Homo sapiens: one gene and its partners. The protein of the gene in region 7 purifies or fractionates together with the protein of the main gene of each other region. This does not show direct contact. Each region holds a gene or a part of one and is shown on either strand. Other genes may lie near its edges.

Region 1 (4,240 bases), on a different chromosome or scaffold from region 7:
GCTTTGTCGGCTGGGCCTGGGCTCCGTGGAACGGGCGCCCTCTGGTGGCCCCTGGGCGGCAGATCCTCCCAGGAGCCCTGGACCCTCTGTGGCCTAGTAGGCACCATTCTCAGTCCCCTCTCTCCTGCATCCAGACTTCTCCAGGGGGACCTCCTCAGAGGGAATGCGAACCCCCTGGGGTTGGGCACCTCGCTGGCCCGGAGCAGGTGGGGTAGAGATCTGATACTTCCTCGTGGGAAGGAGAGCAGTTGGCCCTGGGTGTGTGGCGGGCCTTCCCAGCCTCTGCCCCAGGGACCAGAAAAGGCAGTGGGTGACAGGAGACTTAGCTCATGAAAGAGGGCAGTGTCGGGACATATTGGGCTCCCTTTTGAGACTTCCTTTGTCCTCTGGACAGCCAGGCCAGGCTGCAGTGACAGCAGTGGTCATCCCATTTTATGGGCAAGGAAGCAGGCCTGGGTGCCACCAGCTGGACGGTGGCACTGCAGCAGGGCACCCGGCCACCCTCCCTTTATGCCAGGGCACGGCACAGAAGGCAAGGGCGGAGCCGAGTGGCACCCCGGGTGCCCCTGCGCTGCCAGGAGCCCTCATGCTGAATCACTGCCCGCGTGCCAGCAGGCCTCCTGCTTTTGCTTGCAAGGTTGTGTCTGGGCATAGGTGTTCCCAGAGCACCTGTCTGGCCTCCTGATGTCTGATGTGATGTGATGTGTGTCTGTTTGCTCCTTTGCTGGGGTCTCAGCGCCCCACCTTGGCACCTGAGCTCCCTGGTCGCTGGGACCACCTCTAACTGTTTCCCTGTTGTAGCCACAGAACCCGGCTGGCTCCCGGCCCAGGATAGCTTCTCGGAGGACACCCCCAGGCCTTCCTGGCTTTATACCTGGCTGTGCTGGGTGGGGAGCGGGACATGGAGGGTAGAGGAGGGTCTCCTTGGAGCAGACACCCCTGTTCTCAGGGTCTCCCAGCCTGAGGCAGAGGAGGGGCCCTAAGGTCTAGTTTTGGGGGCAGAAGTCAGAGTGGGGCATGGGACTGTCGGTGGCACAGAAACTGCCCAGCCGCTCCTGTGCCCAGAGTGGCAGCCCGCCTACCAGCTGGAGCGGGCACCAGCGTGCCCTGGAGCCTGTACCAAGCACCCACTCGTTGGGCCCCTCCGAAGGAATCTTTTCTTCTCTGTGCCACTTTTGACCGCCTGGGTGGTTGGCACACAGACTCTGGGGAACCATCCTCAGAGGGCCTGGACCTCTCCTTCCCACATCCCTGAAAGGGTGTTTCCGGCTGGGCCCGGGAGAGCCCACCAGCATCTGCTTCTCAGTCCTGCTCAGCGGGCCTCTCGGAGGCTGCCTGGCACACAGCCCCTCACCAGACCAGACAGTTCCCTGTGCCCTGTCCTGTCCAGGTGGCTCAGCGTGGTTCCCAGGTGGTCCTCAGCCTTTGCTGTGTCGCTGCTCTTCCCTCCATGAGAGGAGCTCATCATCCCCAGCGTGAGGACCGAGCGGAGCCCAGGGGAGCCCTGATCCGACAGGGCCACCTGCGTGATGCAATGGCCTGGGTCCCTGCTGGACCGCCAAGCCTCCCATGCCAGGCAGGCCACAGCACTCCTCAGGCACAGATGCCCCCACCCCCATCCCATCCCCGGTGTCCCCGGGCCTTTTCACAGGAGAGAAAGGGAATAATCGTGACCTCCTGTGAAGGTGGCCAGGAGGGAGAAGGTGCTGGGGCTGTGCACCTCGTGGGCAGCCTCGGGCTGTGTCCCCCCTCTCCCCGGACACCCTCTGCAAAGGCCCACACACACCCCTCTCAGTTAATGGCATCCGGTACCCTAAGAGCACTCATGAACCCGGGTGCTCTTAGAACACGGGGAAACCCGGCTTGTGGAGCGTTTCCCATGACTGTCTGGTTAACACATCAGACGGAAGGGGTCTTTGTAGACCTGTTTTACAAATGAGTAAACCGAAGCCTGGTGAAGCGCTCCTCTTAGGGCCAGATCTGGCTACAGCATTGACCACTGCCCAGTAAAGCCAGGCCAGGCTGCTTGTCCCAGGCTCTGCACTTCTTGGAAGGCTCGTGCTTTTCCCAGCCCGCTCTCCTGTCCTGGGCCTGGGCTCCATCTCTTAGGCTCATTTAGAACGTTTAACCGGGACTCCTCCTGGCCTCCCTGCCTCCGGTCCTGCCCAGCTCCTCCTGGCCTCCCTGCCTCCGGTCCTGCCCAGCTCCTCCTGGCCTCCCTGCCTCCGGTCCTGCCCAGCTCCTCCTGGCCTCCCTGCCTCCGGTCCTGCCCAGCTCCTCCTGGCCTCCCTGCCTCCGGTCCTGCCCAGCTCCTCCTGGCCTCCCTGCCTCCGGTCCTGCCCAGCTCCTCCTGGCCTCCCTGCCTCCGGTCCTGCCCAGCTCCTCCTGGCCTCCCTGCCTCCGGTCTTGCCCAGCTCCTCCTGGCCGTGCCGCCCAGAGAGTCGTACTTCCACACAGCTGGGCCTCACCCTCCGGCCTGGCTCCACTGCCTGTGGGGGGCAGGACTGCTAGGAGGGCTGTTCCCAGCGTGTGCCACGAAGCCCTGCATGTCCCCAACAGGGCAGACCAGCCACCCACACTGGGCCAAGTGCCCCAGGATTAGTGGACAGGTACCCTATTCAGGTGCCCACAGGTGCCAAGCCAGGGAGATAAGGCAGTCCAGTCTGTTGGGGCTTGTACCTTCACACCAGCAATCTCTAGGGACAGTGTGAGCCTGTGGTTAACGCGCCTTCCCAGGTACCGAGGACGCCTCCCTACAGCAGGACGGGGGGCATACCTACCTGGTGGCCGAACCGCAGGGCTGCACATCAGACCTCGGAGGAGAGCTTAGTGGGTGTCTGAGCATGCCCATGTCTGTTCTATGGCATCCATGTGCATGGCACAGGTGTCAGCCATGGGCTGGCACTAGACAGGAGACGAGCCAGGGGAGGGGCTCACCCGAAGCCACACTGGTCAGGTCTGGCCTGGGGCCCCACATCTGCCGTGCCCGGGCCAGTGAGAGGCTGGACGCCTTTTCTTAAGCCAGACCGTCCTCACAGGGCCTGGCTCAGTTATTTCAGATCAAGACTGGACCCGTGGTGGAGGCTGGGGTGGGCACTCCTACATGCGGGGCCTCTGCCCAGCCCTGGCCCTGTCCAGTGTCGACGTGCCCAGAGCCCTGAGCCGGCCTGGATCTTGCCAGTCGCCAGCACAGCCCTGTGGGGCCCGGGATCTTGCCCACTTTACGTGGGGGCTCCAGACAGGAGCCGCCTGCCCGGAGCCTGGGCTCCTCGCTGCCGTGCCTGTGGTGGCTTTTCTTTGTCTGGGAACAGGCCTGGGCAGGTGCCCTGAGCCGCTTGAAGTCTCCTGACGGGGTGGGGGGTGCAGTGTAGGGTGTTGAGGCTTGGGCCAGGGAAGCGGGCGGTTCTCCCTCCACCTCCAGGCCCCACACCCAGGCGGGAGCACGCAGCAGCCAGGTGTTGGGTGAGGGCTATGCTGAGGAGCAGGGCCCAGAGCTGCAGCCTCCTTGGCTGCCCTTGGCCCGCCGTGGGTGGCGGGGAAGTACAGGTGTGAGGGGCATACCCCACTGCCCCAGGCTCGGTAGCAGTCTGGAATCCGGGTGGGTTTAGGAGCCCCTGAGAGGGCCAGGCCAGCCTCACACCATCCCCTCTCCTGCCTGTGGCCTCAGCTCCATCTCCCGCCAGCTCCTGCTGACCCACCTTTCTGGCACACCTGTCCCCTCCCTCCACGGTGTCCTCCCTGTGCCCACCCACAGCACCCGCCTCCTCCGGCCTTTCCCCACAGCTTGACTTCCCGGGCATCGGCCAACACGTACCCTCCCTGTTGCCGGGGCCCCCGCCTGGGCAGGCCTGAGCTCCACACAGGGTGGGGAAGGCCCCGAGTCCCTCCCGGTACCGGGTGGGGCTGGGTGCCGGGGTTGGGAGCACAAGTGTTTCCAGGGCTGTCGGAACAGTGCCACAGGCTGAGCAGCTGCAGCTGCAGACATGGGTCGTCCGTGGTTCTAGAGCCTGGAAGCCTGAGATCAAGTGTGCGTCCACCAGGCTGGCCCCTTCTGAGGCGTGAGGAAGTCTGCTCCACACTGCCAGCTTCCAGGTGTTCCTTGGCTGGTAAATCCCACCTTGGCCTCCACAGGCCGCTCTCCCCGTGTGCGCTTCTGTCTCCGAATTCCCCCTCTTCACAAGGACACAACTCTAATTGGGTCAGGGCCCACCGGTACCATCTCTTCTTAACGAGAGGTGTC
Region 2 (4,240 bases), on a different chromosome or scaffold from region 7:
TCTTGATGATAACACAAAGGCCAGCAGGGTCCACTGCTGTGTGGAATGGCCTTCGGTCATTTCTGCCCAGAGCATAGAGGTCATTTTCACTAATAACATAACTCTCCTTTTGATTGAAAGTGTTAAAATGTTCCTCCTAAAAGCACTTATTTTTTAGGCTCGTTCTTCAGATTTGCCCCATATCCTAAGCAAAATGCCTTCAATATGAAGTGGATATTGCTTGACCGTAGGGAGCTTGTCCATACTGTACTCGAGAATGTAGACACAAAGAAAGAATGTCTGTGTCAAATGTTATCCTCCGCAACTTAACGTTCTCTTGCACTTTCAGCTCAAGCTCTTGGACTCACCGAGGCAGTAAAAGTACCATATCCTGTGTTTGAATCAAACCCGGAGTTCTTGTATGTGGAAGGCTTGCCAGAGGGGATTCCCTTCCGAAGCCCTACCTGGTTTGGAATTCCACGACTTGAAAGGATCGTCCGCGGGAGTAATAAAATCAAGTTCGTTGTTAAAAAGTAAGTTCTTTTTGCCACTGTAGTCGTTTCTGGAATCAAAACAATAAAATGACATTTCTGTTAAGATGTTTTTCAAGCTAGAGGTGACAGGCGTGGCTGTAAGTCCTTGATGGCAAAGCCTGGCTGTGAGCTGCAGTCCGGGTACTGTCCATTGCCCCTGCCCATACTCAATCATCTTCATCCGTGCAAGGAAAATAGTGACAATCGCCTCCGCGGAGTCACCGTGAGGCCCCGTGGTGACTCGCAGTATGCCTGAGTACTTGAATGGAAGTTTAATTTGCTGGTTTTTATCTGCTCTGTTATTCCTGGTCAATCTTGAGAGCGACTAAATATTGATGATTGAGTTTCTTTCTTTTTTTTGAGACGGACTCTTGCTCTGTCGCCCAGGCTTGAGTGCGGTGGCGCAATCTCAGCTCACTGCAACCTCCGCCTCCTGGGTTCGAGCAATTCTCGTGCCTCAGCCTCCCGAGTAGCTGGGATTACAGACTTGCACCGCCACGCCTGGCTAATTTTTGTATTTTTAGAATAGATGGAGCTTCACCGTGTTGGCTAGGCTGGTCTGGAATTCCTGACCTCAGGTGATCCACCCGCCTCAGCCTCCCAGAATGCTGGGATTACAGGCATGAGCCACCGTGCACGGCCTAATGATTGATTTTCTTATCTACATTTCTGCAGAATTTTAGTGGCTAAAGAAAGTACACTAGTGTTTTTTTTTTCTTTTTTAATGAAAATAGTCACTTATTTACTCTTCATAAAATGGCTTACCAGTCATGGGAAGGAAAAGTCAGGGTCTTTTGTCCACAACACTAGGAATTATTGTGTTACAGGATGATTCTGTGAATGCCTTTAGAAAAAAAACCCTGATCACATCACGACCGTTTTACTAGCTGTGAGGCCACCACTGTGCTGGCTACTGTAACACTTCTTGGTTTTCTTTCTAGACCTGAACTAGTTATTTCCTACTTGCCTCCTGGGATGGCTAGTAAAATAAACACTAAAGGTAAGAGACGACGTGTACTCCGTATCCTATTTGAGCGCATTAAGACACTCTTTATCCGCATTCCTTAAATCATACGGAATCGGCCAATATCTCTGTGGGGCTTGGAGTTGTTTACTTTGCTTTCTAAGGTATTTTATTTAATGGAACTATTTTTCTTTTTTTTTTTTAAAAAAACAAAACATTTCATTGGAAATGTCACATTTGCAATCCCAGTTCATTCATGTTTTCACAGCTTTGTTGAGCCCCTGTGGAGGATTACACTACAAGTTTAATTCTGCAGGTTTCTTTGAAAAGAACCAAACTGTATGAATTTTAATACTCTGCTCTTATAAAGCATCTCCTTCTGTATTTTTTTTTCCCTACAATATACAAAAGGAACTCTGCTTATTTTACAGCTTTGCAGTCCCCCAAAAGACCACGAAGTCCTGGGAGTAATTCAAAGGTTCCTGAAATTGAGGTCACCGTGGAAGGTAAGGGCCAGTCCTCGGTATGTTTCTGTTCATTCTCTAGTTTACTAATTATGTCAGTTCACTAGCTATGTGTTTATACAGGTTTATACAGATGACGTTAACCAAACTAGCTTTTAACTGTGAACAGCTGCCTGTGATAAAGCTAAATTTCTGAATGCTTCTAATTGAAAATTTTTAAATCCTTAATAGAAAACAGATAACATGGATCACATCATAAACTTCCCCCAAGAAAAGTCCTAAAATGCTTTTCCTTTATCATAACAAATAAGGGTGCAGAGTCATGTGGAATGTTTTATCTTTTTTTTCCTCTTCATTTTTTTCTATTGTTTTAAGGAAAGAAAGTTTAGGGTGGTTTAAACAGCAGTGCCTTGAATAAAAGTATTTTCTTTTTCTTTTTTGAGACAGAGTCTGGCTCTCTTGCCCAGGGTGGAGTGCAGTGGCACAATCTCGGCTCACTGCAGCCTCCGCCTCCCGGGTTCAAGTGATTCTCCTGCCTCAGCCTCCCAGGTAGCTGGGATTACAGGCGTCCACCACCAACTCCAGCTAATTTTTATATCTTTAGTAGAGACGGGGTTTTACCACGTTGGCCAGGCTGGTCTCGAACCCCTGACCTCAAGTGAGCCACCACGCCCAGCTGGTTCTTGTCTTTTCAGGCTCACAGTGTTAAAATACTGCATACAATACTAAAGACAATCTCCAACCAACTGTCAAGTATGGATATTTCTTCCATCTCTTCATAAATGCAGAAGGAAATCACTGCATTAGGATCATTCTCTACATCCCAGGTGTCAAGTTTTTAAATAAGAGTTTGCCGTACTGGTGTTGAGTGGCGCAGAAGTCCCTATTTAGTCATGTGGCACACTTTCAGAGAGCCTGCTTTCTCATAAGATAGCCAACAAGCATCCATGGACAACTTACACCTGATTAATTATTTCTGTTCAAAAATGCCAAGAATTAAAAATATATTGAACCCTTGACTTTCCTCCTTCCGGAAGAGATCAGAGGAAGATCTCTCTTATATACAAGATGCCAGCCTTTCCTAAAGGGCAGAGCCAAGTTCACGGGGCCTGGGAGGCCTGCTTTAAGAATACAAAATTAGGGCCAGGCGTGGAGGCTCACGCCTGTAATCCCAGCACTTTGGGAGGCCGAGGCAGGCGGATCACCTGAGGTTGGGAGATCGAGACCAGCCTGACCAACATGGAGAAACCCCATCTCTACTGAAAATACAAAATTATCTGGGCCTGGTGGCGCATGCCTGTAATCCCAGCTACTCAGGAGGCTGAGGCAAGACAATCGCTTGAAACCAGGAGGCAGAGGTTGTGGTGAGCCGAGATTGCGCCATTGCACTCCAGCCTGGGCAACAAGAGCGAAACTTTGTCTCAAAAAAAAAAAAAAAAAAGAAGAAGAAGAAGAAGAGAAGAAAAATGGGTTTCTGTAGAAATAGAAAAATGGTTTCTGTGGAACTCGCCGGAATGACAAGAATACCCATTTCAATTTGAACCTAGCTTTGTTTTCTGGCACAGGCTGGACTTGAAGATTGTAACCTAGAGACACTTACGTCATTAAATGTGTGTTGATTATCATTATTTTTTCTGTCTTTTAGGCCCTAATAACAACAATCCTCAAACCTCAGCTGTTCGAACCCCGACCCAGACTAACGGTTCTAACGTTCCCTTCAAGCCACGAGGGAGAGAGTTTTCCTTTGGTAAGTAAGCGTTTTATTTTTCTTTCTTTCATAGTTTTAAATAGAATACGTTCATTATGTTTCATTTTACCAGGTGAATTGTTCCTATTGGTGAGTCAGTATATATCAAAGGTTAAAGGAATAGCCCGTAGAGCCAGGCTGCCTGAGTTCAGATCTGAGTTCAAATCCGATGCCACTTGGGCAGGCGAATACACCCTGCCTCAGTTTCCCTTTGTGCAAAATGGTAATAACATTACTTTCTTTCTCATGAGGTTATGGTGAGGATTATAAATACTGTCATTTAAAGTACTTAGAACCATACCTCGCATGTAGTAGAGACTATAATTTGTGGGGGCATTTTGGGGGTTTTCATTTGTTTTTTCTTTATTTTAGCATTTGTTCACTTATTTGTAGTCAACATAAAAGCAATGTACTAAAACAGTTTGCTTATGTATCAGGATGGGAGTAGTTGTCAAGTCATATCATGGTAAAAGATTATGCATTTTTTATTTCTTCTTAAAGATGCACAAATAAGGCCAGGCGCAGTGGCTCACGCCTGTAATCCCAACACTTT
Region 3 (4,240 bases), on a different chromosome or scaffold from region 7:
AAAGCCTTGGTACAGGCTAAGTAAAATTTTAAATTAAGATAGTGGAGAGACAATGTCCACTTCATCTCTTCTTCAAAGCTGACTTAAAATTTCAAACTCTAGTACAGTTAACTTCCCCCAAACTATCAGCCTTTGATTATATAATGCTAACACTGACTATTTTAATCTTTACATTGTTTTTTCTGTCCCACCCCACCCCAAAATACAAGTTGGTTATAGGTATACATACATTTATATGTGTATGTATATTCTGGGCGGGTAATAGTTGAGCAATACTTTACAAAATTACTCTAAAAGGGTTCCCCCAAATAAAAAAGCTTAAGGAAGGGGGAAAAAAAAGTTGATTTTAGATCAGAACAGGTCAGTGAAAAATAAACAAGAAAACTTTGCAGACAGGGAAAAGAATTGCTAAGAGTGAAAAAGCTATGTTCCATAGAGATTTCCATTTTAATGCAACTGCTATTTATTTTCAGGAACACAGTGGGCAATAAAATGGTAGAGGGAAAAAAATCAGAGAAAAGCAAGATGTATCTTTTCTTTTGCTTACCCCAATACATAATAAAATATATTAAATATATATCATTCTATACTTAGTGCTAAGGCACAAATGGGAGACAAAAAATACCCCACAGTAGGTTCTTGCCATAGTAGAGCTTTAGCTGAGGAGAAAAACATGCATTAAATATCACATTTAAGAAATATAATTAAAAGACATATATATGGCTATAAAAACTCAGAAAAAAGCACCTAGATATTGTCCAGAAAATGTAAGTAACAGAGCTAGCCGTCGGAAGAAGCAAAGAGAAATATATCAGGGGAAAAAGAAGGGAAGGCTATTCTAGATAAGCATTAATAGCATGTGCAATGTGGTTAATGAATATGAAAGACCATCTAACAGGAATGCTCATGATACACTACCAAAGCTTGCAATATTTAATAATGTGGGTCATGTGAGTGGCTGAATAAATATGTTCTGAAAGAAATAATGTCAACTATAAGTAGCCTTGCTGCTAAACTCCCTAGTATTCATTTCTCTTTGCCCAGGAAACTTGCTCCTCTCTCTGTCATTCCAATGCAACTCTCTGGCCCCAATCTACTTTCCCAACCTCATTTTGTATTGTTTCTCTGAATCTAGCAACACTAGATTATAAACCACTCCTCAAATAACTTACGTATTTTCTTCCAGGCTCCTATGTTCTTGTTTATATTATTCTCTTAAGTCTGTATTTTACATTCTTAGCTATTAAAGTTCTACTCACCCTTAGGGCTCATTTCAAATGCTATCTTTTCTTTGAAACTATTTATCCTCAACTCCAATAATTAACCATTCCTTTCTGTTCTCCCACAGAACTCCACTTATTACGGTGCTTAAATTTGCTTTGTTTTTTGTTTACATATATCCTTAATCACAGTGAAATGCATTTCATGGTTGTGGTAAGGGTTCACAAGTATTAGAATGACAGAAAGCATCAAAAGTGAAGAAAACAACAAATGTATCTAAAATTACTATTCTAATTATTCACAAGTCTCCAAAGAAACCCGGGCAATGTCCTTTGATATGCTAATTTCAAGTTTATTAAATAATCTCCCATAAACTTAAAACCTCTCTCTCTTTTTTTTTTTGAGACAGGATCTTGGTATATTGCCCAAGCTATACTTGAACTCCTGGCCTCAAGATCCTTCCACCTCAGCCTCCTAAGTAGCTACAGGCTAACGCCAACATGGCAGCTCTAAAATCTTAAGATTCTGCTTAGACTGTGTCTATTCAAAGGTGAGAAGAGAGTTGGAGTGACCAAAGTAGTAATATTAACCAGAGAGGTAATGTGTCTGTAGTTTTTCCTCCTATTTAGAAACAGTACTAAAATAGAGGCATGACATTTTCTGACAGGGCATGTACTAACTCTGGCAGATTTCCATTATTCACAGTAAGAGCCCTAAAATGGATCTAATCTAAATGTTTCCTAATGTATTATTCAATCTCCAGGCAAGAAATTGACATATATTAGTTGGCCACAGGGCTCAAATCAAGACAGTAAAGCGCTATTAACAATACCCTTTCAGCAGCTAACCCTCCAACATTTTCTTCACATCCCACGAAGTACTTGTCATCTCCTTAAACTACTGTTACCTCTTATACCCCAGTTTCTTGCAAATAATAATGCTGCCTGATACTTTCCATATCCTCAGAATGAACTTACCGTAAGTCTCATAATAGGAGCTGCTTAACTTACTTATTTAAACCTTCAACAAAACAGGCCAGTTTAAGATTTTTAAAAAATTGCCCAAATACCTTAACATGTTGACCAAGTCATCTAGGAGATAATACCATTTTCGATTTATCAAGAACCTTATTAAAACTAAAATTAGATATTTCTATTGGCTTTACAAGAAAGAAAGAGTGATACATTGTGATTACCTATAAATTCCTGGACCCAATCCCAGATCTACTTAAGCCCTCTTGGGAGCACAGCACAGAATTGTCTTTACTTTGGCACTCTTCCCAAATAGATACAAAGAGATGGTGTTTTAGGGACACTGTACTCAACACTGGACTCAATTGCCCGAATTACTCCAAGATAACATTCTACACTAGTCCACAGACCTATTCTGCTAAATTTCTCCACAAGAAACGGGACCAAATTCCACTTCTAAATGACCACACCATAAATGAGTTTTCCAAGAAACGTAAGAATGGAGGGAAAAAAAAATTGTTTCTAAAAATGCTTTATACCAACCATGACTAATCAGGTAGGCTGTGGGGAGTAACTTCTTGGAGAGAATACACACACACACAAACACGCACATGAAAACACGCTCCTACACCCCACAGACAAGACATAGAGGAAATGAGGGATAAATCTCAACTAGCATTTATTGAGCACCTACTATGTGACAGAGATCATATTGGACTTCAGGGATATATGGTGGAGAAAGATCTCTCTGTTCCTCCAATAATCTCATGGGTCTTAGTCCCATTTTACAGATATGAAAGCCGACATTTAAGAAACATCCTGCCATGGTGGGCAGATCGCTTGAGCCCAAGAGTTCAAGACCAACCTGGACAACATGGTGAAGCCCATCTCTACAAAAAACACAAAGATTAGCCAAGCATGGTAGTACACGCCTGTGGTCACTATTCAGGAGGCTGAGGTTGGAGAACTGCTTGAGACTGGGAGATAGAGGCTGCAGTGAGCTATGATCACGCCACTGCACTCTAGCCTAGGCACCTAAGACCCTGTTTCAAAAAAAAAAAAAAATCCTATGATGATCAAACTGGAAATACACAGCATAGTTAGCACACGAATGCAAGCCCACCTAGTGCCAATGCTTGTTATTATTTTCCACTCTAACACAGCACCTAAAGCCTTAACTGAGGAGGGGGAAAAAAAAATCACAAAAATCTTCCTTCTTGACATTTAAATCTATTCAATCTTCCTTATATGAGGCCAAATAGTTTGAAGGCTTTAGCCATATTAGTTTCAAAATAATATGTGATTTTGATCAAGTGCGGGTGGTGATAGTTTACATGGTAGCTATCATCGTTACTTTACATATGTAACACTTTCATAGGTGTAATAGACTTCAGGCAATGTTGTAAGTATTCGAAACATATTAACTTATTTAATATTCAAAACCAACCTATGAATTAGGTACCATGACAGAAAAAAAAATGGTTAAATAAAGTGCATGAGGCCACCAATTCAAATTCAGGTCATCTGGCTCCAGCCTTCATGCTCTTAATACACCACTTGTAAACACAGACATTGAGACTTGAAATGTTAAGAAAGCATAAAAACAACACTGTTTCAATAAACAAGAGCATACAGTCACGTATCTGCCACCACAGTCAATCAGCCTTCATTTTTTCATTCTAAAATTGGTATGTTTAATGTACTTAAAATGAAGGAGGCAGCAGATTTACAATTGCTCCTTAGTGTGAGGTTGTTAAAAAAAAAAAAAAAAAAGGCCAGGCACGGTGGCTCACACCTGTAATCCCAGCACTTTGGGAGGCCAAGGCGGGCAGATCACTTGAGGTCAGGAGTTCGAGACCGGCCTGGCCAACATGGCGAAACCCCGTCTCTACTAAATATACAAAAATTAGCCAGGCGTGGTGGCGTGCACCTGTAGTCCCAGCCTCTCAGGAAGCTGAGGTGGGAGAATCACTTGAACCCGGGAGGTGGAGGTTGCAGTGAGCCGAGACTGTGCCACCGCACTCCAGCCTTGGGGACATAGCAAGACT
Region 4 (4,240 bases), on a different chromosome or scaffold from region 7:
GTCATGGTTCCTACCTTAAGGTGCCAGCATCTTAAGGTGCCTAAATTATGAACAGAGAATAATCTGTTCACAGAATGCAGCCAGATCATTACTACTCTGTACAAATTTCTTTTAAAAAATACTTTTTTCTTGGCTAATTTGAGTTATCATTTAATTACAAGTTTTCATTATAAATTAATGTATAGCTTAATTATAAATTAAACCAGGATCATTCCTTTCAATTGTTCAATTATATCTGGAACATACACTTAATATTCACATAGCTTCTCTTCAATTTTTAAATCTCCAAAATACCTTGAAAATCTGTGAACTTTTCATTTCAGAATTCTATTGGATAATTCATCTTAGAGGTTAAATTGCAGAAGTCAATAGCTCTATAAAAATACAAATACACACATACACACACACACACACACACACATCCATTATACATTTCTGTAAATGAGTAAGTATCAAAGATACACCGGTCAAGTCAAAAGTCACCTTGTGCAGGAAGAGTGACAGAAGACAGCTGGATGAGACATAAACACTGAATATTGGCTGTCTGTTGCCTCCAGGCCCTTCCAATTTCTTCAAACTAAAAATATTCTGAAGGTGTTTAGAATGAGACTGGTCTGGCTTCTAAGAACCACAGTCTATGGCTCAAAGGGTGAGTTCCCCTGGAAGTTGCCACTTTTCTTTTCCTCCTCTCCTAAATTCCTGTGGCTATACATAACCTAGCTTAAAAGGCCTTGTTGGCGGTCATTATTAAAGGGAGAAAAGAGAAAGCAGGAGCTAACTGAACAGTGGATACAACAAGGAAACACTTAAAATCACAGTGCCATAAGTGCATTTTCTAATGATCCAGCTAAAACTCTACACTGATAATCATTATTCCAAATTATTATGCAAACAATCAAGCATTAACTATTTATTGAGCACTGACAATATACAAATTAAGTACTAGACCAGATCCTAATTTCAGAGCACAGAAAAGGACAAACTCAAAAATAAAACAGAACAAAATACATTTGTTTGGACAGAATATCCTGATGAGGTTAAGATTTGTGCCCCAGGCTGGGCACGGTGGCTCACGCCTGTAATCACAGCACTTTGGGAGGCTGAGGTGGACAGATAACCTGAGGTCTGGAGTTCGAGACCAGCCAGGAAAATTCATGGTGAAATCCCGTCTCTACTAAAAATGCAAAAATTAGCTGGGTGCGGTGGCAGGTGCTTGTAATCACAGCTGAAGCAGAAGAATTGCTTGAACCCAGGAAGGAGAGGTTGTAGTGAGCTGAGATTGTGCCACTGCACTCCAGCCTAGGTGACAGGGTAAGACTGTGTCTCAAAAAGAAAAAAAGAAAAAGATATGTGCCCCAAAGATACAGATTTGCCTTGCTCCGTTTCATGGTCATAGACTTTTATCCCATGCCAGCCTTCTTACAGACGTGTGCTACGGGACATAGGGGCCCAAGTAGGGTATCTGGAAAATCAACAAACACTAGAATTGGAAAAACAAGCAAAGACTACAGCACATGTGTAATTACCAGCTTGTACAGGCATCTCGTGGTTTTAAAATAGTAGTTCCAATAATGTGAGACCTTAAATTGTCTTTTCAACATCACTGATGATGAGTTCTCAGAATCAGTGTATAGATGAAGAAAGTCAATTTTATGCTTATGATATTTAAAGAACCGTTCTTGTTTTGTTCATTACATCTGTAACATTTTATTTTCTAATTAAACTTTAAAATTATGTCCTTCCACATAAAATGGCATCATAAATCAAAATGAGAATACTTAAAACCCAATTGTTACACCATTGTCAAAGTCTAATTACATAACGGTCATTTTATAAACAAATGAAACCCCTCAGGGCATGTCATGAGGGGATATTGCCTTTTCTAGGCTGAAGTCACTTGGCATCAAACTCATCTTAAAAGGCTCCTAAGGTGTGGTAATATCTATGACTCATGAATTGTCCTTTCATTGCTGTACTGATTACATGATTTCCAAGATTAAATGAGCTATTAGATTCTGACTTCATTTGTTTACTGCACCCAATATTTATTACAGTAAATATCACGTTCATTAAGTAAAATTATTGCTATCCACTTGCCAGATATTACCAAAGAGAGGTGGGGGGAGAGAATCTAGTACGTGTATTATTAAATCAATGGTTCTATTTACCCCAAAGGCAGTAGTGAAGAGATGGAAAGGTGGCTTTATCCAAAACCCCAGGAAATCAACCTGAGGCACCCGTAAACTAGTAAGAACTCTTCAAAGGGGCTAGCAGCTCACTACCCTGAAATGGAGGAAGCCTAACCAAAGTGGGGTCCAGCAGGGCACACTCTATGGTGGAATGAAGAGCGCACTGAGGCTGAGGGATGGCAGGAAGAGAAGGCAAGGGACCAGGTGGTAAGAAGCTCATTCAGGATAAAAAAAGAGGAAACCCACAAGTGAACTTGAGTAATTGGTGACTTTTCTGAGCTTCAGTATCCTCTTCTGTAAAAAGAGATGGGTAAACCAGAAGGTCTGAAGCCTCCCTTTGATTTCACAAGTCCATGTTTTTATGCTTGGGGTTGCATGGAACACATGCAGTAGCAAAGAGCCCAGGGGTCAGGCCCACCTACAAGCCACCCCTGCTCCACACTGGGGTGGGCAGGTCTGCCTTTCCAAGTCTCAGCGTCCTCTGGAGCCTGCAAGCAAAGAAGTGTGGCACACAGGCAGTCACCTCCTGGGAGAAGCCCAAGGGTAGATACAGTACTTCTAACTACTCTCATTTTTTTTTTTTTTTTTTTTTTTTGTAAATAAGAGCACCTGGAATAAATTGAATACTAAGTGTACATAAGCAGCATACATTTCACTTACTATACTCTACCACATGTTGTACGTGCTGCTTGGGATAAAGTGTTCTCTCTTCTGAATGTTTTTACACAGCTTGCTACTTTAGAGTACATACTTAATATTATCCATTCCCACCGCATTGAAAGAGGCCTGCCAAAAGTTAAGGATGCCAAAAGAAAGGCAGGAGTGCAGCGCACATGCTGGAGAAGGAGAAACTCTCTAACCACTTTTAACATCTTGTTTTTATCAAGACTCTCATGTCAAATGAAGATTATTCCAGGACTATGAGAAAAACGCCAGAAAATGGGCCCTTTTGAGTGCAAATTCAGGAGAATGCCCAGGTGTGAAGCACAGTTGACCTTCAGCAACACTGAAAAATTGGAAACATTTGTGTTGTGTCATCTTCTCCTACCTCTTCTTTTAGAAAATTTTCCTCTCTTTCCTACCTCACAGCTTCCCACTCTGCCTCCTCTTCCCCTGCACCTCTCCAGGACCCCATCATTTATATCACAGTCTTCAAAGCATCCCTCCCCAAACTCCAGTCCTTCTGGCCAGCTTTTGGGGAAGAAATTGCACTCACAATTTAATCCATACTAAATGTTAAAATCTGATAATGGTTGAACTTGGCCTTTCAAAAGTTACCTGCAGTTTAGAAAACATGTAGGCACAAAGTGTCATGCCAAAGGAAAAAAAATTCCAGTGACAGATGTTCAGGTCAGTTGGACAAAACAGTCTGAGGAATGAGACCATAGATTTTTCAACTTTTCAAACAGGTCTAGAAATCTGAGCCATAATGTAGTAGGAAACTGTGGCTACTATTAACTCTTCTCCATGTTTTCTGGTCAGTTTTATTTGTTTTGGGGGGTCTCCTCATGGTTTGGTCAACTATCAGTAAACATCCAATATGTGAGAAAATAATATACTGTACTTAAATTTATGTCCAGGTTGGGCTACATAGAAATAGATGAAATTTGTCATTTTTAGATTTGTATTCTTGTCAGTCTATTGCCTGGTACAGGTATCCTTTAAAAAAAGAGTAGTCTCTTTGGGGACTTGGGAAGAAAGGGTGGGAAGTTGGGGAGGGACAGGACTACAAACTGGATTCAGTGTATACTGCTTGGGTGATGGGTGCAACAAAATTTCACAAATCACCACTAAAGAACTTACTCATGTAACCAACTACCACCTGGTCCCTAAAACCCTATAGAAATAAAAAATTTTAAAAAAATTGGTAGTCTCCACAAGTCTGGATGAGTTATTCTACATTTCCCTTTTAATGTCTTGTCCTTAGCTAGTTATAAAGTTAGCAGAGTTCTCAACCTGAGTACTAGTGACATTTGGGGTCAAAAATGTTTTTGTTGAGGGTATTATAATGTGTATTGTAGGATGTTCAGCAGCATCCCCGGCCTCTACCT
Region 5 (4,240 bases), on a different chromosome or scaffold from region 7:
TTTTTATTACTGATAAAAAGACTGATAATTCAGAGGTTTTCTGGAATCCAACACCTGACATTAAGCAATGGAGATTAATAAGGCACACTGTAAAATTTGAAGAACAGGGAGATTTTGAATCAGAGAAGTAAGTATACTGTTTTACAGCTAACTTCATGAGGATCAGAGAGTAGTTTTTCAATTCCTTAATGATATGGTCATTTTGTCACCTTCTGTCATATCTTAATTCAGCAAAATAGTTTATCATTTGTGGAAGTGACAGTATTCTGTTTTTGTGTATATGAATGTCAAATATAATATAAATCGTCTTGCTTTTCTGTAGCTCAAAACTACTCATTTTTTTCTTTCTCAATTGTTCCAGCACCTTAAAAAAAAAGAAAGAAAGAACGTTTTTGTTTAAATAAGATTACAGGACTAATTAATGACTCTTAGTTTCTACCTGGCAACAGTTTTCTAACCTGATTTAAGCATTAGAACTCTAGGTAAAGGGAGTGGTGCAGAATCTACTTCTGTTCCATTCTCTGATACAAAAGTAAAGTTACTGGATGGACTGGCTTCTATAGGATTTATTAGTTGGGTAATAACTAAGGCTATCATTTCTGTTCTTAAGTCATGAACTTCTTGCTAGATGGCTTATATTTTTGAATCAGAAATATTGTATACACATTCCCTATTTTATTGTTGTTATATCTTTGTGTTAAGAGAAAGAGACTTATGTATAAGAGATATTTTGCTAGGCACTTAGTACTTATTATGCAACTTTGTCCTCCCTACATGTTTGCACATACATATCATTCTCTGTCATGGGAATTCAAGTCTGTGTACCTTCCCTTCTACACTCAAATTTGAGGTTGTCAAAGATGGAAGAATGTATATGTACCAGTTCTAAAAATTCTGTCTCAGCCATAACCATTTGATGTTCTTTTTCCAGAGATAAGCTTTGCCAAGGCATACATATGATAATTTGTGAGAGTATATAATTCAGCATATTTGAAGATGAGGAAATGAGACTTAGGATAAATAACTTTAAGTGCACCAGCTAAGAAGTGGCAGCTCTAGGACTTGACTCATGTCTATCTGATCCCAAAGCCTTTTCTGGTTTTAACATGCTGCCTTTCTAGATGGGTAGGATATAGATATACTTTTATTTAACAGAAGAAAGAACTAGTAGGGGAAATCATTTTACCTCAGTAGTCTTTTCTGTTAAACCAGTGGTTCTCAACACTAGCAATACATTAAAATATTTTGGGGAAACATTTAAAAAATATATCAATACTTGCGCCTGACCCCAGAGATTCTGATTATAAAAATTCTCTGATAATTCATGGATCCAAACTTCAGAAGCACTGCATTACATTAATGGATCTTTATGAAGCCAGTGAATCTTAAACAGTGTAAGACGCATCTAGGAAGCTTGCTAAAAGCGTAGATTCCTGAGCTTTACCTTCATTACATCCTATCATCTTGAGCCAGCAACACTTCAACACTTACTATCATGAGTTTAAGAGTCTATGTAGTAAGTTTCTCTTGCCAAGTAAAAAAAATTAGTCTCCACTTATGAACAGGTCTCTCTCTACTCAAGGGACTGGATTTATATCTTGACTCATTTCTAAGCCTATGAGCATAAGTGTTGTCAAAGCCAGAAATTCATGTGAGCATTATTTTCTCTACAAGGGATTTGAGGCCTATTCTATATAGATTTTATTTTCTGTTACATTTTTAATACTTTTAATATTTTCGCACATGTATTAGACTCTGGCAACGGGTAACTCGAGCCATAAATGCCAAAGACCAAACTGAAGCTACCCAAGAGAAGTATGTTTTGGAAGAAGCTCAAAGACAAGCTGCCAGGGATCGGAAAACAAAAAATGAAGAGTGGTCTTGCAAATTATTTGAACTTGATCCACTCACAGGAGAATGGCATTACAAGTTTGCAGAGTAAGTAACTTAAAATAGTTTATTTCAAACAATGTATTAGCATGGTTTGTTGCCTTTATTTCTAGAATATTTGTTGCTGGAGTAGTTTTTATTTAATTAAACCATGTATATTAGTGTGAGATTTTTAAACTTGGTTTTGCATTCATTATAAGCTTGACTCTATGATAGAAGTTAGCCTATAAAATAAGTTGAGGATCTGAAGATTAGGTATGGGGAAATCTCATTATTAGAACTATGTATATAATTATTAATAAAATTGGATCATAGAATAGAAAGTTTTAAAGTTCTTTGTTTAGTCATTGAGCAAATGGTTTTTTTTTTTTTCATTTATGTAGTACCCGACCATGGGACCCACTTAATGATATGATACAGTTTGAAAAAGATGGTGTTATTCAGACCAAAGTGAAACATCGTACTCCAATGGTATGTAATAAAAAACTAGGTACACTAGGTATATAAATCTGTTAAATCTTTAGTATCTATAGCAACCAACTAAAATTTGGTTTCAAAATTTAAAATTTTGGGTGAGCAAAATACGCAGCTCTGAACTCTTCTTACCCCAAAGAAACATCAGAAAACAAGCAAAAACTGTCAACTCAATTTGCCAGAACTCTGGAAAACAGTCAGAGGTGTTCAGCAACCAAGTGAACACTGGTCAAGAAAGTGCAAAGAGAGGAAAGCTTTGTGGCATTTTACCTGCCCTTGCCCCAGGTCCATCCCAGTGCAGTAGCAGTCTTGAAGAGCCCCTGCGTTGCCAGTGTAAGTCCCTAGTTCCAGAAGGAGCAGAGTGGACCTCATACACAATTGTGTATGTCTGTCCTAACCTGTCAGAATACTACCTGAAGGACTTACACAGGCACTCATCTCTGAGAAAATCAATAAAGACAAATTATTCAAGGGAGCCAAACAAATTCTGGAGCTGAAAAGTATAACAAAAATGAAAATTCACTAGAGGTATTCAAAAGCAGATATAAGCAAGCATAAGACAGGATCAGGAAACTTAGAGATAAGACCATAAAAATTATCCAGTCTGAGGAGGAGAAAGAAAAATGAATGAAGTGAGGTGAACAGAGCCTAAAGGACCCATGGGACACCATCAAGTGGGTTATCATTGCATTATGGGAGTTCCACAAAGAGAAGACAGAAAAATGAATGAAGAATATTTAAGGAAAGAAGACCCCCCAATCCCCAAATTTGGTGGAAGATATAAATCTACAAATTCAAGAAGCTCAACAAACTCCAAGTAGGATGATCTCAGAGAGACCCACACCACAACAAACTGTCAAAAGCCAAAGAGAGTCTTAAAATCAGCAGAGAGAAACAACTTATCACATACACTGGGGATCATCCATAGGATTAACAACCGATATCTTATAGAAACCATGGGGGCCAGAAGGCAATGAGATGACATATTTAAAGTGGTAGAAGCAAAAACTTGTCAATCAAGAATTCTGTATCTGGCAAAACTGTCATTCGAAAATGGGGGAGAAATTAAGACATTCCCAGATAAAAGCTGAGGGAGTTCATTACCACTAGACCTGCCCTACAAAAAAATGCTAAGGTAAATATGTAATAAAATGAAACTCAAAGCTGTATGAAGAAATAAAGATTTTTAGTAAATAGTTGGACAAATATAAAAGCTAGTGCTATTGTAATTTTAGTTTGTAAGTCCACTTTTTATTTCCTGCAGGACTTAAAAAATAAATGAATGAAAAATAATTTAATTACATATCTTTGTTATCAGACATACAATGTGTAAAGATATAGTTCATTACAACATAAAAGCAGAGAGGATGGAGCTGTATAGGAGGAAAGTTTTTATGTACTACTGAAGTTAAGTTGGTATCAACTCAAACTAGATTGTTGTAGAGGTAGGTGTAAATGTCATCCCCATAGTAACCACAAATGAAATATCTAAAAAAATACACACAAAAGAAAATGAGAAGGGAATTGAAACAGTTTACACAGGAAGCAAACACAAAAGCAGGCAGTAATGGAGTAAATAAGAAACAAAAAACGTATATGACGTATAGAAAATAGCAAAATCAGAGGTAAGTTCTTATCAGTAGTTATTTTAAAATGTAAATAGATTAAACTCTCCGAGCAAAAGACAGATTGTAAAAATTGATTAAAATAAACATGACCCAACTATTTGCTGTGTACAAGAGATTCACTTTAGATCCATAGGCAGAAATAGAGAAAAATGAAAGTTTGGAAAAAAATATTATGTGCAAATAGTAACCAAAGGAAAAATGAGGTGGCCAATAGTAACCAAAGGAAAACTGAGGTGGTTATACTGTCA
Region 6 (4,240 bases), on a different chromosome or scaffold from region 7:
ATTCCTAAGTCCAACAAAATAATTGACCTCAAAAAGAAGATAAATGAATAGGCTGCAGAGCTCATGATTAGAATCCACTTTCCAGTCTCATTGTATTAGTATTTTTCAATTCAGTGATTTTCCCATTCTTTTTTATCTTCTTTCACAATCTGTTACGCCTTCCACCCTGTTCCTGTATCAGCAAGGCCAAGCTACTTTCATTCTTGGTTTCCAGATCGGAAGGTTTAACTTATGATATTCTCATACTTTTATATTAATAATTTAATATAGTTTCCATTTTAGGACAAACTAGATAACTAGCATTTTTGAAAAAAGTATGAAATTCTCTTGATTTCCTAAAATGATAAGCAATATCAGCATACAGCATATATAAATATTTTGATAAATTTATGCTTCTCAATTTTGCAAATTTCGCCCTATCTGCTTCAATAGTCATTTTCTTTACCGAATCCCTAAAGATTCAGAGAGATTTAATAATATTCAACTTTATTTTACATTTAGTAAAAATAAAAACCATTTGGTGACCTGGACAAAATTACACAGTATTTGTAATCCCACAGTTTTTGCTGCCACTGTAGCAACAGAATGTCTATTTAAAAATATATATATATTTCATAGAAAGGAGGTAAACAAATGAAAAGTACTTTCATTGCTGCTTTGGTCTGATTTGAAAACAAATATAAAACATTTATCATTATTATAGACACCATTTAATTATCAAGACAATGGTTTGATTGTATATTAATCAGAACTGAAGTGGCTAAACCAAGCACTTCTTCAGCCAACTTCTAAGAATGCACAAGTAGCTTCCATGGAATTAATGGAGAGGTGTTCGTCACTATTTCCTTTCTGTATCTTAGCAGAGAATACCCAGAACCCCAGAAAGGAGAAGAGTCCTTTTAAAAAATTCCTGGAGCTTTTGAAATATGCAGGACTTGATTTGTCCCTGCATTTCTGAGAAGGGGCATAGTTTCAGGCAATAAACGGGGACTATGAAGAGGTAAAGCAGAATCATTTTACTCTTGGGAACTTAGATTGATAACCTCAGAAGCATTATCTTTCCTTAGCTCTTTCCCTACCCCAATTTATAATCTCTAAATGAGATAAAACTTGAACTTGCTCTACCCAAGCTTATTTGTGCAAAAGGATAGGTGCCCTACACACACAAAGTGTGTCTTGAGGGAGACTAGCATGAGGGCCAGTGAGGCTAATGATACCCAATGGCTTTAATTTTTGTCTTATTTTTTTGCATCCTATAAGGGATCCCAGTAACACTCAAGCGCTGTTGCAAAGTGGAAGATTTGAATTATTGGTGTGCACTTTTTCATTTAGAACCTCATAACCAGAAAGTCCAATTGTCAATATTTTATTCAAGTTCTATAACATGATGGTTTATATTTGTAATGATAATCCAAGATACTTTAAGGCTTTCTGACTCATTATGGCCACCTAAATTATGCTCATTATAGCTTTATTATGAAGTGAATTTAATTGCATTATGAATATCTGAACATTGCTAATTGATTGCTATATATAGAAACTAGAAAGAGTCTAAAATATGACATTAATTTGAACATCTCATTTATGGACTATTTCAAATAAAAGCAATTTAATGGAATTTAGTGTTAGGACAAATTTATAAATAAACTGAAGCAAATGTGTTTATCATTATGTAAACAACAATACTCTGCACGTTATATTTGCAATATATTTTGATTTGAGTTTGTATCAAACCATAGGATTATTTAAAATTTAACAAGAAATGATTAAAGAATTGAGCTATTTTGGAGGAGGATTACATGGTAGACTCCTAATGTTAATGGAAATCATGGGGTATTCTGTTTTGAGTTGTACAAGGTCATAGATGTAGGTCAAATCCCATTTAAAATATGTTTTTTATCTGTCCATTAACACCTTAATCACAGGATATGTTTTTCCATGAAAATGTCAATTAAAAGCAGTTGTACTTAAGGTAAGTGGGTGCCTTGGGCTTTCTAGATTTCATTAATTTATGACTTCTTTCTGTTTTATCTGCAGAATTTTTCCGAGAGCTCCTGGAGAATGCAGAAAAGTCACTAAATGATATGTTTGTACGGACCTATGGCATGCTGTACATGCAGAATTCAGAAGTCTTCCAGGACCTCTTCACAGAGCTGAAAAGGTACTACACTGGGGGTAATGTGAATCTGGAGGAAATGCTCAATGACTTTTGGGCTCGGCTCCTGGAACGGATGTTTCAGCTGATAAACCCTCAGTATCACTTCAGTGAAGACTACCTGGAATGTGTGAGCAAATACACTGACCAGCTCAAGCCATTTGGAGACGTGCCCCGGAAACTGAAGATTCAGGTTACCCGCGCCTTCATTGCTGCCAGGACCTTTGTCCAGGGGCTGACTGTGGGCAGAGAAGTTGCAAACCGAGTTTCCAAGGTAATTGAAAACGTGCTTTCTTTCTCATTGGTGTTCCTTGTTTATTCTGTTTTTAAAACCAATGTTTAAAAAAAAAAAAAAAAAAAAAAAAAACCAAGGTAAAAATTCTTAATTGGTGGTCCTTGCTCTTAATCAGTTAAATATCAAAGCATAATTCTGGCTTTCTTTTCCTTGCATTGTGTGAGAGAGAACAGGATTTTAAGCCATTCTATGTGGTTTGAAAATTAATGTTAATACTTATCAGCAGTATAGCAGAGAAGCTTTTAGTACCAATGGTGCAAAAGCAGGCACGTTGCAACTATGATCATTTGATATTTCTGATCAGGGTTTTAAGGATGATAAATACTCATGAAAGAATCCATTCAGAGGTTATAATCCTCTAGGGAGTCAAGATGACAGTCTTCATGGACCTGCGAATGGAGACAAGTTATTGTTCAGGACATCAGCACCTGGCATTTCTTCTTTTTCAACACATGTCAATGTGGCCAAATTCCTTCATGGTAAAAGAAGAGCCCTTTGCTGACACCTGTATTACTGGATTAGGAAGGACTAATGAGTACCAAGTATAGATTCTCCTAGAGAATTTCTTTTGTTACCCCTTATCTTTGTAATTTCATACCATGCATTGCCTTGGGCTTATGAATAAGATCAATCATTAATCTACTTTTGGGCCTTTCTTGAAGATAACATCTCTATACCTTGGATATAAGGGATAATTCTACATTCCACTACTTAAACATTGAATATTTCCTGTGTAGAGGATATCTGCTTTTGTTTAAGTTCTTTCTTGACATTTAAGGCACTTGTGAGGTCAGTCCTCCAAATAAAATGAAAGACAATTACTTAAAGAAGTAAAGTTAAAAATAATACGTAACAGGAATCTGGTATTATGTCACTCCAAGAAGGTGTATTTGTATAAGGATTATTCCCAAACACTACTTTTCTATTGGAGGGCTGTGCCAAAGAGCCACAGTATTTTTCATAACTATTGGTACTGTCCTACAATGCTTCTTTTTTTTTTTTTGACACTTTGGTCTCCTCAATATTTACATCCTAGCATAAAGATGGTGTGTACCCTTACAAATGTTTCTCTATTGCACTGTCAGTAAAATCCGTAATAGCCCATTTTAAATTGTTAATTTCCTAAACGTTTATTTGAGCATACAGAAAGATTATTTCTAGGAAGGCGCTGAAGGAAATAATTACAAGGGCTTATTTATCAATATAAAGGGCATATGATTCTAATGTTTAAAATAATATCTTTGCCGGGCGCGGTGGCTCACATCTGTAATCCCAGCACTTTGGGAGGTTGAGGCGGGCAGATCTCGAGGGCAGGAGATCGAGACCATCCTGGCTAACATGGTGAAACCCCATCTCTACTAAAAATACAAAAAAATAGCCAGGCGTGGTGGTGGGCGCCTGTAGTCCCAGCTACTCTGGAGGCTGAGGCAGGAGAATGGCATGAACCTGGGAGGCGGGGCTTGCAGTGAGCTGAGATCGAGCCTCTGCACTCCAGCCTGGGTGACAGAGCAAGACTCCAACTCAAAAAAAAAAAAAAAAAAAAAAAAAAAAAAAAAATATATATATATATATATATATAATGTCCTTACATTGAATCTCAACAATGTTTTAGATACCAAAGAAACTAGAGCCCCAGAAATGCATTTATAAGGAATTAGCTAGGTAGAATAGCAAGAGGAAATATCATCACCTGAGGACTGTCAGTAAAATATGAATAAGTGTAGAAAATAAATATGCATTCCATATTTTCTTGAGTAGATGCATTTTGTTGTAAAATAAGTGTAAATTAA
Region 7 (4,240 bases):
ACAATAAAAAAAAGTCTGTGCATGTTCAGTACAGATGCAATTTCTTGTTTTTCTAATATTTTCTATCCACTGTTGGTTGAATCCATGCATGTGGAGTCAACCTATGGTTGGGGATGGCAGACTGTATGTACTCTCCTGATAGGTGGTTACAAAGTGTTTCTACCTGAAGAGACCTGGTTGCAAAGCAGCATGCCCAGTATAACTTTCCTCAGGCCCAGGGAAAAGCTTGGAGGGAGGTTCCCACAGAAATATTAGCAGTGGTTTCCTGGGCCAGTGGGATGAGGACCACACATTGAGCTAGCAGTGGAGAAACAGTGGTGAATAAGGTAGGTCTGGCTCTGTCTCCTGGAACTTACTGGACTGAGGATGAACCTTTCTCCACTAATTTTTGTTCTGAAAAATTTCAAAACCGAAGAATAGTTGAAAGCATAGTACAATGAATATCCCTAGCCTTTTCACCTGGATTCTACCAGTTGTTAACCTTTTCCATATTTGCTTGTATACATTACCCCCTCACCTCCCCCAAATTTTTTTTTTTGAGACGGAGTCTCGCTCTGTCGCCCAAGTTGGAGTGCAGTGGCGCGATCTCGGCTCACTGCAAGCTCCGCCTCCTGGGTTCACACCATTCTCCTGCCTCAGCCTCCCAAGTAGCTGGGACCACAGGCGCCTGCCACCATGCCCGGCTAATTTTTTTGTATTTTTAGTAGAGACGGGGTTTCACCCTGTTAGCTAGGATGGAATTGATCTCCTGACCTCGTGATCCGCCCACCTCGGCCTCCCAAAGTGCTGGGATTTACAGGCATGAGCCACCACACCTGGCCCAAAATTTTTTTCTATTATTTTTATTATTTGAAAGTAAGTCACACACATGATAGCATTTCACCCCAGAATCCTTCTCCAGATGCCTTCTGAGCTCAGAAGCTGTCACCTGTACAACCTCTTCATCATCACATCCGAGATAGCATTAACATTGCATTTTTTTTTTTTTTTTGAGATGGAATCTCGTGCTGTTGCCCAGGCTGGAGTGCAGTAGTGCGATCTTGGCTCACTGCAACCTCCGCCTTCTGGGTTCAAGTGATTCTCCTGCCTCTGCCTCCCAAGTAGCTGGGACTTACAGGTGTGTACCACCAGTCGTGGCTAATTTTTGCATTTTTAGTAGAGGTGGAATTTTATTGTAACGTGGCATTTTCTAATGCAAAGGTGACGTGCAGCCTTCCTCAGTGGTCACCTGTCCTCCTCAAAGCTCTTTCTTGTTCTTCTTTCTTTCTCTCTCTTTTTTTTTTTTAGAGACAGAGTTTTGCTCTGTTGCCCAAACTAGAATGCAGTGGCATGATCATAGCTCACTGCAGCCTTGAACTCCCTTGGGCTCAAGCCATCCTCCAGCCTTAGCCTCCTGAGTAGCTGGGACTATAGGCCTGTGCCACCACACCTGGCTAATTTTTTTTGTTTGAGACGGAGTCTGGCTCTGTTCCCCAGGCTGGAGTGCAGTGGTGTGATGTCGGCTCACTGTAACCTCCGCCTCCTGGGTTCAAGCAATTCTCCTGCTTCAGCTTCATGAGTAGCTAGGATTACAGGCGCCCACCGCCACACTCGGCTAATTTTTATATTTTCAGTAGAGACGGCGTTTTACCATCTTGGCTAGGCTGGTCGCGAACTCCTAATGTCATGATTCACCCGCCTTGGCCTCCCAAAGCGTGAGATTACAGGCGTAAGCCACCATGCCCAGCACTGGCTAATTATAATTTTTAAAATTTTTTGTACAGATGGGGTCTCGCTTTGTTGCCCAGGCTGGTCTTGGACTGGGTTAAAGTGATCCTACCACCTGCTCCTCCCAAAATGCTGGGAATACAGGCATGAGCTACAGCAACCTGGCCAGCATTTCTTAAAATATGAGGGTAGTTGTCTCGTATTTTATATAAATACAGGATTCACAATCTGGATTTGTCTCATTGTTTCCTTGTTAGATTAGGTTCAGGCTAAGTATTTATGGCAAGAATACTGCTTAGGAGATGATGAGCTAAAGGTAACTTTTTTTTTCAAGATGGAGTCTCACTCTGTCACCCAGGCTGGAGTGCAGTGGCGCGATCTCGGCTCACTGCAACCTCTGCCACCCGGGTTCAAGCGATTCTCCTGCCTCAGCCTCCTGAGTAGCTGTGATTACAAGTGCCTACCACTGCGCCCGGCTAATTTTTGTGTTTTTAGTAGAGACGGGGTTTCACCATCTTGGTTAGGCTAATCTTGAACTCCTGACCTCGTGATCTACCCACCTCAGCCTCCCAAAGTGCTTTGAGACAGAGTCTCGCTCTGTCGCCCAGTCTGGAGTGCAGTGGCGCGATCTCGGCTCACTGCAATCTCCACCTCCCCGGTTCAAGCGATTCTCCTGCCTCAGCCTCATGAGTAGCTGGGATTACAGGCTCCTGCCACCATGCTGGGCTAATTTGTGTATTTTTAGTAGAGATGGGGTTTCACCATGTTGGCCAGGCTGGTCTTGAACTCCTGACCTCAAGCCATCTGCCTTGGCCTCCCAAAGTGCTGGGATTACAGGTGTGAACCACCGTGCCCGGCCTTCCTTAGTGGCCCTTCTAACCTTAAGCTGCTTTTCCTTCCTGACAGCGGGGCCCTACTCTCCTGGTCTCTTTCCTGCTTGGGCAAGGTGCCATGAGGCTTTTCCTAGGCCTTGACTTTGCTGTAGCTTCTAAGGTGTCCTGTGGCGGCAAAAGGGACGTGTGCTCTGTGGGTGGGTGCAGCCACCTGTAGAGCTGCAGCTATATCCGCAGGATGGTTGTGTGACTGATGGTCCTTGGGGAGCCCAGCAGTGAGGATCTCAGCAGCCCACCTGTCTCAGAGTCCCCGCTGTGCACCCAGGCCCAGGGCTCAGTGAGTGAGAGCTCTCCGACCTCGGTGGGGGCGGGGCTAATTGACCTTCAGACCCACCGTGTGCCAGTGCTGGCTGGCACACAGCACTGCTTGGACTTCCCCTGTGGGAAAGGATGGGGACAGATCAGTCTTTGGAAGAATGGAGCGCTGGCTTTGCTCAGCCCTGTTCTTGGGAAGGTTTGATCTGGAGAGCCGCAGCAGCCAGACCCTGGGGAGGCAGGTTAGTGAGCAGGCTCCCAACTTACGAGCTAGGAAGGCTGACGGCTGCTCATTTCCCCCCATGTGGACCTCATCAGGGGGTCCTTCCTGAGGGCGAGCGCTAGGTTCGTCTGCGTTTCTCTCTCCCAGTTGGGCCTGACTCTGGACGCCAGGCTGAGGGAGTACACAGCTCCTTCAGAGCACGGGCTCAGACGCTCAGATGCTCGGAGCGCTTCCGGCTGCTTTTCCATGGGTAACTCACATGTTCTTCCTGCAGGCTGGCATTTGTCTTTCATGGCTTTTTTCCATCGGTCAGAATTACAGTCTTTTGATTGTATGTACGTACCTGGTTATTATCAGATATCTAGTTTAAAATGTGCATCTGAATATAGATTTTCTTGGTGAACGCATTGCGTTCTCATTCCGTAAAAAGTCGGAAGCTCAAAATGATGCTTAAAAAAAAATCTTAGCAAGCTCTCCTGTGCAGATGCTGCTGGCGCTGAGCTTTGTGCCTGGGGCAGAAAGGGTGAGGACGGCCCCGGTTGGTTTAGGAAAAGTGGTTATGAACAGAACGGGCCCCATGCTCCTGGCCTGAGGAAATGTTGTGTGAAAAAGATGGCTTCTACAGCTTGAAGGGGGACGGTCCACCTGATGCTCCTGTCCCTCTCTGAGCCCCAGGGGCAGAAGGGAAACAGTCAATAGCACGGCCGTTGCAGATGGTGCCCATAGAGGGAGGGTAGTTAGTGTCTGAGCAGGAGAGGGTGACCGGCCTTTGTGGGGCTGCTTCAGAGAGCCGGGCAGAGTCTGGGCCCCAACGTGGACTAGCAGGGGAGGAGCTCTCCTGGCTGGGGTGGCGACTCGGGGAGGTCTGGGTTGCCTGAGCAGGGAATCGGCCTCCAGTGGGGGAGGTTCTGAGTGGGACGCGCTCTTCGTGTGGGCCTGGAGGACCTCTAGGCGGCCTGCACTCGCCTGATACAGCTGGCTTCTGCTGGGAGGCTGGGTTTGCATCCAAACTCTGAGACCTTTTGGACAAAACATGCCAAAGAAGTTGGTGGTAGTAAGAAATTCATACTAAACTTGTTCTGTTAGGGTTTTTTTCCTTCCAGGTATATTATTTCCCTTCAGTAGCCCTACATTTTAAAAGTTAACGTTCAGCGTTGAGTCA

Evidence for each region.
Region 1: the proteins of PDPK1 (region 7) and GPC1 purify together in Homo sapiens (affinity purification with mass spectrometry; 2 studies listed by BioGRID and IntAct, with this or other methods). This does not show direct contact.
Region 2: the proteins of PDPK1 (region 7) and GTF2I purify together in Homo sapiens (affinity purification with mass spectrometry; one large-scale study listed by BioGRID and IntAct). This does not show direct contact.
Region 3: the proteins of PDPK1 (region 7) and STRAP purify together in Homo sapiens (affinity purification with western blotting, with the first as the bait; one study listed by BioGRID). This does not show direct contact.
Region 4: the proteins of PDPK1 (region 7) and FGF2 purify together in Homo sapiens (affinity purification with mass spectrometry; 2 studies listed by BioGRID and IntAct, with this or other methods). This does not show direct contact.
Region 5: the proteins of PDPK1 (region 7) and OSBPL8 purify together in Homo sapiens (affinity purification with mass spectrometry; 2 studies listed by BioGRID and IntAct, with this or other methods). This does not show direct contact.
Region 6: the proteins of PDPK1 (region 7) and GPC6 purify together in Homo sapiens (affinity purification with mass spectrometry; one large-scale study listed by BioGRID and IntAct). This does not show direct contact.

The regions. Positions count from the first base shown.
Region 1 is NC_000002.12:240,438,401-240,442,640, forward strand, and holds part of GPC1 (glypican-1 precursor), read left to right. Parts: intron 1-4,240. UniProt on the Homo sapiens protein: Cell surface proteoglycan that bears heparan sulfate. Binds, via the heparan sulfate side chains, alpha-4 (V) collagen and participates in Schwann cell myelination.
Region 2 is NC_000007.14:74,744,430-74,748,669, forward strand, and holds part of GTF2I (general transcription factor II-I), read left to right. Parts: intron 1-328; coding exon 329-512; intron 513-1,453; coding exon 1,454-1,512; intron 1,513-1,907; coding exon 1,908-1,982; intron 1,983-3,585; coding exon 3,586-3,687; intron 3,688-4,240. UniProt on the Homo sapiens protein: Interacts with the basal transcription machinery by coordinating the formation of a multiprotein complex at the C-FOS promoter, and linking specific signal responsive activator complexes.
Region 3 is NC_000012.12:15,885,214-15,889,453, reverse strand, and holds part of STRAP (serine-threonine kinase receptor-associated protein), read right to left. Parts: intron 1-4,240. UniProt on the Homo sapiens protein: The SMN complex catalyzes the assembly of small nuclear ribonucleoproteins (snRNPs), the building blocks of the spliceosome, and thereby plays an important role in the splicing of cellular pre-mRNAs.
Region 4 is NC_000004.12:122,829,361-122,833,600, reverse strand, and holds part of FGF2 (fibroblast growth factor 2 isoform 18 kDa), read right to left. Parts: intron 1-4,240. UniProt on the Homo sapiens protein: Acts as a ligand for FGFR1, FGFR2, FGFR3 and FGFR4. Also acts as an integrin ligand which is required for FGF2 signaling. Binds to integrin ITGAV:ITGB3.
Region 5 is NC_000012.12:76,367,335-76,371,574, reverse strand, and holds part of OSBPL8 (oxysterol-binding protein-related protein 8), read left to right. Parts: coding exon 1-127; intron 128-1,752; coding exon 1,753-1,938; intron 1,939-2,273; coding exon 2,274-2,361; intron 2,362-4,240. UniProt on the Homo sapiens protein: Lipid transporter involved in lipid countertransport between the endoplasmic reticulum and the plasma membrane: specifically exchanges phosphatidylserine with phosphatidylinositol 4-phosphate (PI4P), delivering phosphatidylserine to the plasma membrane in exchange for PI4P, which is degraded by the SAC1/SACM1L phosphatase in the endoplasmic reticulum.
Region 6 is NC_000013.11:93,828,117-93,832,356, forward strand, and holds part of GPC6 (glypican-6 precursor), read left to right. Parts: intron 1-2,037; coding exon 2,038-2,429; intron 2,430-2,699; exon of another isoform or gene 2,700-2,839; intron 2,840-4,240. UniProt on the Homo sapiens protein: Cell surface proteoglycan that bears heparan sulfate. Putative cell surface coreceptor for growth factors, extracellular matrix proteins, proteases and anti-proteases. Enhances migration and invasion of cancer cells through WNT5A signaling.
Region 7 is NC_000016.10:2,544,064-2,548,303, forward strand, and holds part of PDPK1 (3-phosphoinositide-dependent protein kinase 1), read left to right. Parts: intron 1-2,764; exon of another isoform or gene 2,765-4,240. UniProt on the Homo sapiens protein: Serine/threonine kinase which acts as a master kinase, phosphorylating and activating a subgroup of the AGC family of protein kinases.